Regions from separate parts of the Homo sapiens genome. Here all the other regions are linked to region 2. The links come from fine-mapping of genetic effects on gene expression. A gene starts in region 2. Each other region holds a variant in brackets. All regions are shown on one strand. Distances are from middle to middle.

Region 1 (4,118 bases), 160 kb after region 2:
GTTCCAGGACACCGTGTGACACTGGGAAGGTTATAAAACTTTTCCGAGCCATAGTTTTCTCACTCAGAATTTGGGAATAATAATTTCTACATCCTTGCAGCTGTGGTGAGGATTTTCAAAAGTGCATGGTTATGAAATTTAGCATAGTAGCAGGCATATTGCAGGTCTTCCAAGACTCTTAATTAATTTTGAGAGAAGGTGACTTGCTCAATGTCACATATCTTATTGAACCAAGGAATGCCCTTGGGCACACAGTGTCTAACTATTGTTAGATTTATGGCCTGGTCTCATGTTAAATATGGAAAGGCAGGCTGTTGCTTGGATATGCAATGCTTGACCCAGTTCCCTCTAAGCTTCATATTCATCCACTTCGGAAATTCCTAGATTGGCTTTTCCTCACCAAGTAGTAATATCCTTTTAGCTTTCTGTGATAGCTTTCTTTTCTTTTATTTAATTTTTAAATACTTATGACCACTTTAAAAATACAGAATTTAAAGATCCAAATCTGACACCCTTCCCCCATGTAGCAGTTGGCAAACACACTAAAAATATGCTAAAAATTTTATGTGTGTACTTTTTTTTTTATCCCCAAAGAAATAATAAAAAAATTATACTTGCAAAACATGTAATGTGGGTCTTGAATCAAGTAATCAAGTTACTTCTGCCAGATGCCTCTGACAGCACCCAAGAGGGTCTGGACTCCTGGGGTTACTTTCCCTGTGTGCACCCATCTGCACGTCTGCACTTTGTGAGTGCGCAGGGTATAAGCTGTTTGTGGCCCACCCTTCAGTGCACAATTCCTGGTGTTAAAAGGCAATACTAAGGACATTTTTTTTTGTTTGTTTCAAACAGCATATTTTTGCCTCAACAGTCTGATGCTGAAGCAGACCTCCTCTGGAAAAGCAAGTCTGTTTCTTGTGCAATTCCTCCCCACTGCACCCCTCCCTTTCCAACCCTAGCCATATGCTTTTCCTATCTAACTCCCATCTCTTGGATGCCATACGGTTTGGCAGAATCTTGGCATAGGGCTCAGAGATCTGAAATTGTGTGGGGTGTGGTGTCTGACCACTCTCCCTTTGTCTGTCCGGCTTGACTTACTGCAGTAATATGGCTATGCATGGTAATATGGGCCTGATTTCCCCCTCAGGTAGTTGGAATCAATTGCATCTCATTGATATTGATATGCTCACCCTGATTTAAACATTGCCTTTTAATTTAAAGAATTTTATTGGGAAGGTGTTCTTAGCATATGTTCCCAAATGACATTATTCTTCTGTAGCTGTGATTCATTGGGAACGGATTCAGCAGGAGCTGGATCATATGCCCCTTTGGATGTGGTTTCTCTACCTACAAGTTGTAGTGCCACAGTGCCTGGCACCATTGATGAATGGCTGCTCATGACTTATTTAATATAGAAGATATACTTGCATTGTGATGGCCTCTGTACTGCAAACACTCCAAGGTCAGTTGTGGAAAACTGCAGAAAGGGCACAATATCCACTGCCATCTTGTTTCCCTGACCTCTGCCTTCCCCAGCAACTTCTCACTAGGTTCCCTGGCACCTTCCTCCCCTAGCCTACCTGCTAAAGCCTGTTCATTGCTAACCAAACTTTGGACGTATGCACTGCCAGGAGCTAGCCCAAGGCACTTATGTAGCTCTTTATCCATCCATTCATTCATTAATCCATCCATTGATTCACTCACTCATGAAACATTTACTGAATCCTTGCTCCCAGGTAAGTTCTCCTCTAGGCCCTGTGAAGGAGATAGGAAAGTAAGGGAAAATTGCTTGACAGTAAGATAAGAATCAAAGAAGAGATTTTAACTCAGCCGGGGCTAAGCAGAGAGGGGGTCATAGGGGAAC[A/G]GTTCCTGGGAAGCAAACTCATGGAACTGAGTCTCCTTGCTTAACCAGCCCTTCTGCCTCCTTTCACACCACAGGACTGGTTCCTGCCTTGTACTTTACTAGTTACCTTCCTAATTCTCCATTCTTATCTTTGGGTGGATGTCTCTTCCTGAACCTCAGTGAATTTGTTGGAACCCAGATATTCTATTTAACTCCCTTTGTCCCTCTCCTGCATGATGGAATGTACTCAGCCCCCTGTCCATTGGCAGGGACCTTCCAGAGCCAGGTATACCACTTATTGGCTCCTGAGCTCTTTGGCCTCTGAATCTTGGACCTTACTGTTGGGTCATCCTCCCAAATAGTCAGAATACCCAACACAGGTATGTGGAGAACCAGACTTTCAGATCTGGGCTGGGGGCCACATACTTGTCCGGAAACAGGTTAGCATCCCCAGACCCTTCTCTCTGTTCCCACTTCTGGTTGTTTTTCTCCTCCCAGCTCAGAGTCCACATTTAACAATTGCCCCCATCCTGCACATCCTGCACCAAGATTCTAGCATGCCTTACATCTGAGCACATCTGAACTGTAAGTATAACTTACCTATATGTTGAATGAACTTGGTAGAATACAATCCAAGAATAACTTTATTGACACCCCCACTGCCACTGCTCTTCAAACCAGTTCTGTTGGGAACCCCTTTTCTATTACTAGAAAGCATTTCAAAAAAAGATAGAAGATTTTTTTTGTAATAGCAGGCATTAGAATAGTCTCATTTTTTGAGTATTAAAAAGCTCAATATGATTTAAATTAAAACTTCACTCTTTTACCAGATTCTATTTGTCCTCTACTGCCTAGCTTAGGACAGACCCAGGCTCAGCTTCCTGCCTTGGAGAAGGGAGATGTGGTCTGTTTTTGACTCTGTCTCCTGGCTTTTGCTCCCTCCTCTCTACTCACTTACTGCTTCTAGATAAGTGAGGAGGAAAAGCGAGAAGGAGATCTTATTTGACAACTGCTGGCATAATGGGACCTGATGCTTTGTGTGTGGTGATGGCCCACATGCTCAAGGAGATTCTATGAGTCCTTCAAGCCACATTCCTGGTCCTCCCAGAGATCTCTGACACTGCACAGCTCTCCCAAGTTGTTGATACATTCTCTAGCTGGCTGTCATAATCTGCTTCTACCTCCCTGAGCTCTTGCTCAGAGGAAACATCTCCAGACTTCCCACTGAAATCTCTTCAGTCTGTGGGCAATCTTCCTTTGCAGGGGTTTTTTCAAGATGACTGCAGCTTAGCAACTTTTGGTGAAGTTACCTTAACCCATAGGGAAACCTACACCCCTGCCTTTCCTTCTGAGGAAGTGGAGCTTGCTTGCACTGTGGCTGTCCTTCTCCACTCTGCAGTCATAGGCAGCTCCCTGGGGGCTGTGGTGAGGCAAAGTACACACCCTATGACCCTGCCATGGAGAGCAAAAGAGGATGCCACACATTTCCTGCCAGGCAGACAACAAAGAAACTCTTACTTTGACTCTGAAAGCTTGTTTAGGATGAACTAAGAGATCCAGGTCTCACTTGTGGCCACCTTTCAGCTTTGAGCTTTAGCCAAAATTCTAAGACATCAACACAATCGCCATTTAGCAAAGACACAGTGTGAGGTGTTTTATTAGGAAAATGTACCAGACAGGAATAGTCTAGCCTTGGAGAAACTTGTACTATATTGATTCATGAGCTGAGATGCCCTTACTGCTCAGCAAAGCACACACAGCCATGGCTAATGCTGTAATGGGCCCTGTTTTCCCCTTGATTGGTATGAGTCTCTTCCAGCACATTTTTAGCCATTGGATCTGTAGGAAAACCAGTGAAGAGCAGGAATTGAATGGAAAGATTGTTAGGTGGACTCAAGTCATACCTGCTGTGCACTGTGGGCCATAAGCATGCAATAAGGAGGAAAAAGGCATATTGATAAAAGCTGGTCATGGTGACAGGAAACATGTGTGCCATCAGTGAACAAGACATCAATGAGTATGACTCACTCCTCCCCCACCTGAGCCTCAGCCTGTGATGGTAGTGAATATGTATATGTATACATGCAAGAATGAAGGACAGAGTTCATTAAGAGTATTAAAGTGTGTAAAAGAGTGGATTAAAAAGTTGTGAGTGTTAAGAAGGTGTTATTTCAAGAAAGAGAAATCCCACTGGAAGAGAATTTGAGTCTGTGAGGTATGCATGTGTATGTGAGAGGTAAGTGAGGAAAAGGTGGAGAGAAAGAGAAAGTGATAA
Region 2 (4,118 bases):
TCTTTAGAGTCTGAGATAATTAATTCCTTTCTATTGGAATTATTCTGTTTAAGCAAGTAAAGTGCTTGATTTACTTCCTTAAAAAAACCTCTGATGTTATTCATTTTGCCTTATTGATGTTAATAATGGATTTAATGGTACCCCAGAATAATACTGGTATAGACACACAATTCAGTAGTGTCTTAAAGATTACATCATATATTTTTTTAAGTCCAAAGACTAACCATATATTTTGCAAAATTTAAGACTGTTAAAATGTAAAATATTTAAAGAAATAATATCCAGGCTGGGTGTGAGTGGCTCACGCCTGTAATCCCAGCACTTTGGGAGGCCAAGGCGGGCGGATCATGAGGTCAGGAGTTCCAAACCATCCTGGCCAACATGGTGAAACCCCGTCTGTACTAAAAATACAAAAAAAACGTGGTGGCACGTGCCTTTAATCCCAGCTACTCGGGAGGCTGAGGCAGGAGAATCGCTTGAATCAGCGAGTTGGGGGTTGCAGTGAGCCGAGATCGCGCCACTGCACTCGTCTGGCAACAGAGCAAGATTACATATCAAAAAAAAAAAAAAAAAAAAAAAAAAAAAACAAGAAAAGAAAAAAAAGAAGTAATATCCAAACTCTGAGCCTAAATTCGCAAAACTAAAATTCCAAAAATAAGCGAATGTGTAAAAAGTATGGAAAGAACAGACTTAAACAGGAAAGTATAAATATTCACAGGTGGTTTTTTTCCCCTTAGTTTTGCTAGAAAGTGTGCTACAGGTCTAAAGACTTTTCTCTACGGGAAGTGCTTGCTTAGAAAACCACACGTGAAAAGTATTTGAACAAGTCTATTCTTTCTTGATAAGTAATGAAGTGTAGAGATTTACTACAATTTTCCTACGTTTTAAACACTTAGTGTTTAGGGCAGTATTTCTGACATCCAGCAAAATGCTGGTTACATAGTAGGCACGCAAAAAACATTTTGTTAAATGAATTAAAATTAATGAATACATATTCAGATAAAAAAAATTCTCCTTTTGCAGTGCATACACCCGTGAAGCTGTCACCTACCTAGCAGCTAATCACGTTTCTCCAATTTCCTGGTGCCAGCATAATCTGTTCACACATCAAATAAGTGTGCCAAGCTAGTTTTTTTTCTTACCCAAACCTATTCCTTCTTGTTTCCTATTTATCAGAATGCAACCACAATCCTCCTACTCACCCGTTCCTCATTTTATTTGACAAATGCTTCCTTTCCCGCCTGTACAGACTGACACTCACTGACGATATTCTGCTTCTACCCATGTTTCCCACAATTGGTCTCAATTTCTGCTGCCACAGCCTCCACTACCTTTTGCTTGGACCAGTGAATACCCTCTGATTTTCCGTTGTCAGTCGCTTCTCATCAATCTATTCTTAATCTTGTTGCTTCGTTGCACCTCTACTCCCTCACCTTCCACCAAACAACCCAGTTAGCGTAGAGATTAGGAGAAGAGATTCTGGCTCTGAGCTTAACATAGTGATTGATCAAGAATTTAACCTCTGGAGCCAAACTGCCTGGCTTTGTCTGCCATTCGAGGACTTTTCCCAACCTCATTTCTCACTTTGTAGTCAACCCAAAACACCTCCCTCCATCTCCCACCTAGCTTGTGTTTCTCACTTAACTTTTAAAGTCCAGCTCACATGTCACTTTACTCACTTCCCAGAATTGTAATCTTCGTTTCGAACTGCTCTCGCACGGCAGCTATACTTCTCAGTACCTGCTTTTGTACCATTATGTGCGTTTTTTCTCTTTTTATAAAAAATCTCTTTCAGGGAACGCATAGTTCTTGAGGTCAGGATATTATTGTTTTATTTTTATATCTCCAGTAAGTCACAGTGTGACTTGCACTGTGGTTGCTCGATAAATGTTAGGTGAATGACATCAATTTACAGAAATAAATCCAACTCTGAGCGTCTCCCCTTGAGGACCGTGTTTTGTTCATCTGCACGCTCTCCAGGTCCTGCACTGCGCCCAGGACCAAGAAGACGCTGGACCCTTACTAGGAGAACCGAGGCAAGAGCCGGCTGGAGCCGCGGGGAACCCGCTCGCCCCGCCCACCCGCCTAGCGCCGGTGAGCCTGCGGCTCCCGCGAAGCGCGGCCCCGCCCCCTCGGCGCCAGGGCGCACGCGCGGAGCTGGAGCCGGCGCGGAGGAGCGGGCGGCCGCGGCTGTGCCCTCTCCTACTCCTCACCGCGCGAGCGCGGGGAACCAGTAGCCGCGGCTGCTTCGGTTGCCGCGGTCGGTGGTCGTTATGGATTCTCCATGGGACGAGTTGGCTCTGGCCTTCTCCCGCACGTCCATGTTTCCCTTTTTTGACATCGCGCACTATCTAGTGTCAGTGATGGCGGTGAAACGTCAGCCGGGTGAGTGCGGGGCGCCGCGGGCCGGACCCCTCAGAGTGCTCCTGACGGCGAGGACCGTCTAAGTCGGGTGGGTCGGGTGGGTCGGGTGGGCGGCTGAGTGGCCGCTAGCCCAGACAGTTCGATGGTAGAGTTGGAGGGGCGCCAAGGGCCGGTTGGTCTGACTTACTGAGTGCAGATGGGGAAACAGCGTGGGGGAGGACGGAGGCTCTAGTACTCCTCAAAGGAGGCGTGACCTGGGGTCCGCGAGGCCGTAGCCTGGGCGAGCAGGGCCGACCTTGCCAACCGCCCGCAGAAGTCCCAGGACTGACAGAAGCTGCCGCAGCGTTTCGGAACCACAGATATCCGCGCCAGCCCAGGGCTTGGGCGGCCTCCTCGCGGTACCGCCACTCGCTCGCAGTGTCGCCACTCGCTCGCAGTGTCGCCACTCGCTCGCAGTGTTTGAAAGTCATGTGAGGAGACAGCAGGTTTCTGACTCAGTCTCTTGGAGTAATAGATGGTTGCGGACTACTCTCCAGTTATGAAAGTTGTACAAGCACTGAAACAAAAAGCCTCCTGTAGCCAGACCAGGATTCCCCTTCACGCAGTGTCCTAACACCCTGCCTAGCATGTGAGAAGCGAGTGCGTTCCCCTTTTCACAGTCACGACGGACACTGTACAAGCAAGAGTTACCTGGCGTAGTTTCACTATCTGCAGAATGGGGATATAGTCTTGAAACAGCATTTTGAGTTCTTTTAGCAATGCGATCAAGGGACAGTAGTTGTATTTTATTGGATTTTACACCAGGGTGCGTTTGCTCTAATACTGCTTTACTTTTGTAGTTATTCTACTGTGCTTTTAGTTGTATGGACCTCTTCTTTCTTTGAGGTCAGACATTTCTTTGCCTACTTTCTTTGTGTTCTTGCTGTCTTTCATCTGCCTTGCCCTACGGATAGTTGATGAGTGAGGTCTGGAGGATGATGCTGTATCTTTCTTATGGACTACTTACTGGTTTTAAAAAATCCTTAGACCTCAGAAATATTTTTCATTTATGTTGAAGTTTGTAGCTCAGTTTAAATCGTTGGTACAAATTTTGACCTGGATGAGGATGGTATTACTGCATTAAAGTAGAACACATTATCTGCATAAGATATTATTTCTTTGATTTGAAAAAAGTAAGTTTTGTTGCTACTACATGTTCAGAATTTGATTAAAAAAATTTTTTTTTGTATAGGCTGAATCAGATGTTCACATTGTGGTCCAGGGACCCATGGGATTCTCTGACACTGCCAGTTTAAAATTACTTTCGTAATAATATGCAGATGTTATCTTTTTCACTCTCATTTTTTCAGAAGTGTACAGTGGAGTTTTCCAGAGGCTACCTGAGTTGTGATACTGTAACAGAAGGAAGTAGATATGAGAATCTAACAGTTTTCTATTTGAAGCCAGACATTTGTTAGAATGTACACAGTGTGATTCTTCTCACTAAATGTTTTTTGTTTTGGAAAAGTTATTTTTCATAAAGAATACATTATCATTATTATTATTATTATTTTTGAGACGGAGTCTCTCTGTCGCCCAGGCTGAAGTGCAGTGGCGCGATCTCGGCTCAGTGCTGCAACCTGTGCCTCCTGGGTTTAAGCGATTCTCCTGCCTCAGCCTCCGGAGTAGCTGGGAGGCGCCTGCCACCAAGTTCGGCTAATTTTTGTATTTTTAGTAGTGGAGACGGGGTTTCGCCATGTTGGCCAGGCTTGAAG
Region 3 (4,118 bases), 36 kb after region 2:
ATGGGATGACTGGGTCAAATGGTATTTCTAGTTCTAGATCCTTGAGGAATCACCACTGTCTTCCACAATGGTTGAACTAATTTACACTCCCACCAACAGTGTTCCTATTTCTCCACATCCTCTCCAGCATCTGTTGTTTCTTGACTTTTTAATGATCGCCCTTCTGACTGGCGTGAGATGGTATCTCATTGTGGTTTTGATTTGCATTTCTCTCATGACCAGTGATAATGAACATTTTTTCATATGTCTGTTGGCTGCATTAATGTCTTCTTTTGAGAAGGGTCTGTTCATATCCTTTGCCCACTTTTTGATGGAGTTGTTTGATTTTTTTCTTGTAAATTTGTTTAAGTTCTTTGTAGATTCTGGATATTAGCACTTTGTCAGATGAGTAGATTGCAAAAATTTTCTCCCGTTCTGTAGGTTGCCTGTTCACTCTGATGGTAGTTGCTTTTGCTGTGCAGAAGCTCTTTAGTTTAATTAGATCCCATTTGTCAATTTTGGCTTTTGTTGCCATTGCTTTTGGTGTTTTAGTCATGAAGTCTTTGCCCATGCCTATGTCCTGAATGGCATTGCCTAGGTTTTCTTCCAGGGATTTTATGGTTTTAGGTCTAACATTTCAGTCTTTAATCCATCTTGAATTAATTTTTGTATAAGGTGTAAGGAAGGGATCCGGTTTCAGCTTTCTACATATGGCTAGTCAGTTTTCCCAGCACCATTTATTAAATAGGGAATCCTTTCTCCATTGCTTGTTTTTCTCAGGTTTGTCAAAGATCAGATGGTTGTAGCTGTGTAGTGTTATCTCTAAGGTCTCTGTTCTGTTCCATTGGTCTACATCTCTGTTTTGGTACCAGTACCATGCTATTTTGGTTACTGTAGCCTTGTAGTATAGTTTGAAGTCAGGTAGCGTGATGCCTCCAGCTTTGTTCTTTTTGCTTAGGGTTTTCTTGGCTCTGCAGGCTCTTTTTTGTTTCCATATAAACTTTAAAGTAGTTTTTTCCAATTCTGTGAAGAAAGTCATTGGTAGCTTGATGGGGATGTCATTGACTCTATAAATTACCTTGGGCAGTATGGCCATTTTCACAATATTGATTCTTCCTACCCATGAGCAAGGAATGTTCTTTCATTTGTTTGTGTCCTCTTTTATTTTGTTGAGCAGTGGTTTGTAGTTCTCCTTGAAGAGGTCCTTCACATCCCTTGTAAGTTGGATTCCTAGGTATTTTATTCTCTTTGTAGTAATTGTGAATGGGAGTTCACTCATGATTTGGCTCTCGGTCTGTTCTTGGTGTACAGGAATGCTTGTGATTTTTGCACATTGATTTTGTATCCTGAAAATTTGCTGAAGTTGCTTATCAGTTTAAGGAGATTTTAGGCTGAGACGATGGGGTTTTCTAAATATACAATCATGTCATCTGAAAACAGAGACAATTTGAATTCCTCTCTTCCTATTTGAATACGCTTTATTTCTTTCTCTTTCCTTTTTGCCCTGGCCAGACCTTCCAATACTATGTTGAATAGGAGTGGTGAGAGAGGGCATCCTTGTCTTGTGCCGGTTTTCAAAGGGAATGCGTCCAGTTTTTGCCCATTCAGTATGATACTGGCTGTGGGTTTGTCATAAATAGCTCTTATTATTTTGAGATACGTTTCAGCAATACCTAGTTTATTGAGAGTTTTTAGCATGAAAGGCTGTTGAATTTTTTTGAAGGCCTTTTCTGCATCTATTGAGATAATCATGTGGTTTTTTCGTTGGTCCTGTTTGGATTACGTTTATTGATTTGCGTATGTTGAACCAGCCTTGCATCCCAAGGATGAAGCCAACTTGATC[G/A]TGGTGGATAAACTTTTTGATGTGCTGCTGGATTTGGTTTGCCAGTATTTTATTGAGGATTTTTCCATCCATGTTCATCAGGGATATTGGCCTAAAATTCTCTTTATTCGTTGTTGCCAGGCTTTGGTATCAGGATGATGCTGGCCTCATAAAATGAGTTAGGGAGGATTCCCTCTTTTTCTGTTGATTAGAATAGTTTCAGAAGGAATGGTACTAGCTCCTCTTTATACCTCCTGTAGAATTTGGCTGTGAATCCATCTGGTCCTGGACTTTTTTTGGTTGGTAAGCTATTAATTATTGCCTCAATTTCAGAGCCTGTTATTGGTCTATTCAGAGATTCAACTTCTTCCTGGTTTAGTCTTGGGAGGGTGTATGTGTCCAGGAATTTATCCATTTCTGCTAGATTTTCTAGTTTATTTGAGTAGAGGTGTTTATAGTATTCTCTGATGGTAATTTGTATTTCTGTGGGATCGGTGTTGGTATCCCCTTTATCATTTTTTATTGCGTCTATTTGATTCTTCTCTCTTTTCTTCTTTATTAGTCTTGCTAGCCATCTATCTATTTTGTTATCTTTTCAAAAAACCAGCTCCTGGATTCATTGATTTTTTGAAGGGTTTTTTGTGTCTCTATCTCCTTCAGTTCTGCATTGATCTTAGTTATTTCTTGCCTTCTGCTAGCTTTTGAATGTGTTTGCTCTTGCTTCTCTAATTCTTTTAATTGTGATCTTAGGGTGTTGATTTTAGGTCTTTCCTGCTTTCTCTTGTGGGCATTTAGTGCTATAAATTTCCCTCTACACACCACTTTAAATGTGCCCCAGAGATTCTGGTACGTTGTAGCTTTGTTCTCATTGGTTTCAAAGAACATCTTTATTATTATTATTATTATTATTATTATACTTTAAGTTCTAGGGTACATGCGCACAAAGTGCAGGTTTGTTACATATGTATACATGTGTCATGTTGGTGTGCTGCACCCATTAACTCGTCATTTATATTAGGTATTTCTCTTAATGCTATCCCTTCCCCCTCCCTCTCACCCCACGACAGGCCCTGGTCTGTGAGGTTCCCCACCCTGTGTCCAAGTGTTCTCATTGTTCAACTTCCACTTATGAGTGAGAACATGTAGTGTTTGGTTTTCTGTCCTTGTGATAGTTTGCTCAGGATGATGGTTTCTAGCTTCATCCATGGCCCTACAAAGGACATGAACTCATCCTTTTTTATGGCTGCATAGTATTCCATGGTGTATATGTGCCACATTTTCTTAATCCAGTCTATCATTGTTGGATATTTGGGTTGGTTCCAAGTCTTTGCTATTGTGATTAGTGCAGCAATAAACATACGTGTGTATGTGTCTTTATAGCAGCATGATTTATAATCCTTTAGGTATATACCCAGTAATGGGATCGCTGGGTTAAATGGTATTTCTAGTTCTAGATCCCTGAGGAATCGCCACACTGTCTTCCACAATGGTTGAACTAGTTTACAGTCCCACCAACAGTGTAAAAGTGTTCCTATTTCTCCACATCCTCTCCAGCACCTGTTGTTTCCTGACTTTTTAATGATCACCATTCTAACTGGCATGAGATGGTATCTCATTGTGTTTTTGATTTGCATTTCTCTCATGACCAGTAGTGATGAGCATTTTTTCATATGTCTGTTGGCTGCAAAAAAGTCTTCTTTTGAGAAGTGTCTGTTCATATCCTTCACCCACTTTTCGATGGGGTTGTTTGATTTTTTTCTTGTAAATTTGTTTAAGTTCTTTGTAGATTCTGGATATTAGCACTTTGTCAGATGGGTAGATTGCAAAAATTTTCTCCCATTCTGTAGGTTGCCTGTTCACTCTGATGGTAGTTTCTTTTGCTGTGCAGAAGCTCTTGAGTTTAATTAGATCCCATTTGTCAATTTTGGCTTTTGTTGCCATTGCTTTTGGTGTTTTAGTCATGAAGTCTTTGCCCATGCCTTTGTCCTGAATGGTATTGCCTAGGTTTTCTTCCAGGGATTTTATGGTTTTAGGTCTAACATTTCAGTCTTTAATCCATCTTGAATTAATTTTTGTATAAGGTGTAAGGAAGGGATGCAGTTTCTGTTTTCTACATGTGGCTAGCCAGTTTTCCCAGCACCATTTATTAAATAGGGAATCCTTTCCCCATTTCTTGTTTTTCTCAGATTTGTCAAAGATCAGATGGTTTTATATGTGTGGTGTTATTTCTGAGGCCTCTGTTCTGTTCCATTGGTCTGTATCTCTGTTTTGGTACCAGTACCATGCTATTTTGGTTACTGTAGCCTTGTAGTATAGT

Evidence for each region. PIP is the estimated chance that this variant, and not a neighbour inherited with it, causes the effect. A credible set is the group of variants that fine-mapping cannot tell apart.
Region 1: its variant is the best candidate, but not a certain one, in a credible set for the expression of TMEM38B in esophagus mucosa (GTEx, PIP 0.62).
Region 3: its variant is the best candidate, but not a certain one, in a credible set for the expression of TMEM38B in thyroid (GTEx, PIP 0.60).

Annotation. Positions count from the first base shown.
Region 1 is chr9:105,855,232-105,859,349 of GRCh38, forward strand. No RefSeq gene overlaps it. Among named protein-coding and RNA genes, the nearest start is that of TMEM38B, 160 kb to the left of the region's middle. The variant A/G (reference allele first, on the strand shown) is at 1,865.
Region 2 is chr9:105,692,388-105,696,505 of GRCh38, forward strand. TMEM38B (transmembrane protein 38B) reads left to right here and starts at 2,154. Exons shown (of 6, transcript NM_018112.3): 1 at 2,154-2,385. The coding sequence starts at 2,274. RefSeq lists a silencer at 1,988-2,257.
Region 3 is chr9:105,728,608-105,732,725 of GRCh38, forward strand. All of the region lies in intron 4 of TMEM38B (transmembrane protein 38B), which reads left to right. Among named protein-coding and RNA genes, the nearest start is that of TMEM38B, 36 kb to the left of the region's middle. The variant G/A (reference allele first, on the strand shown) is at 1,823.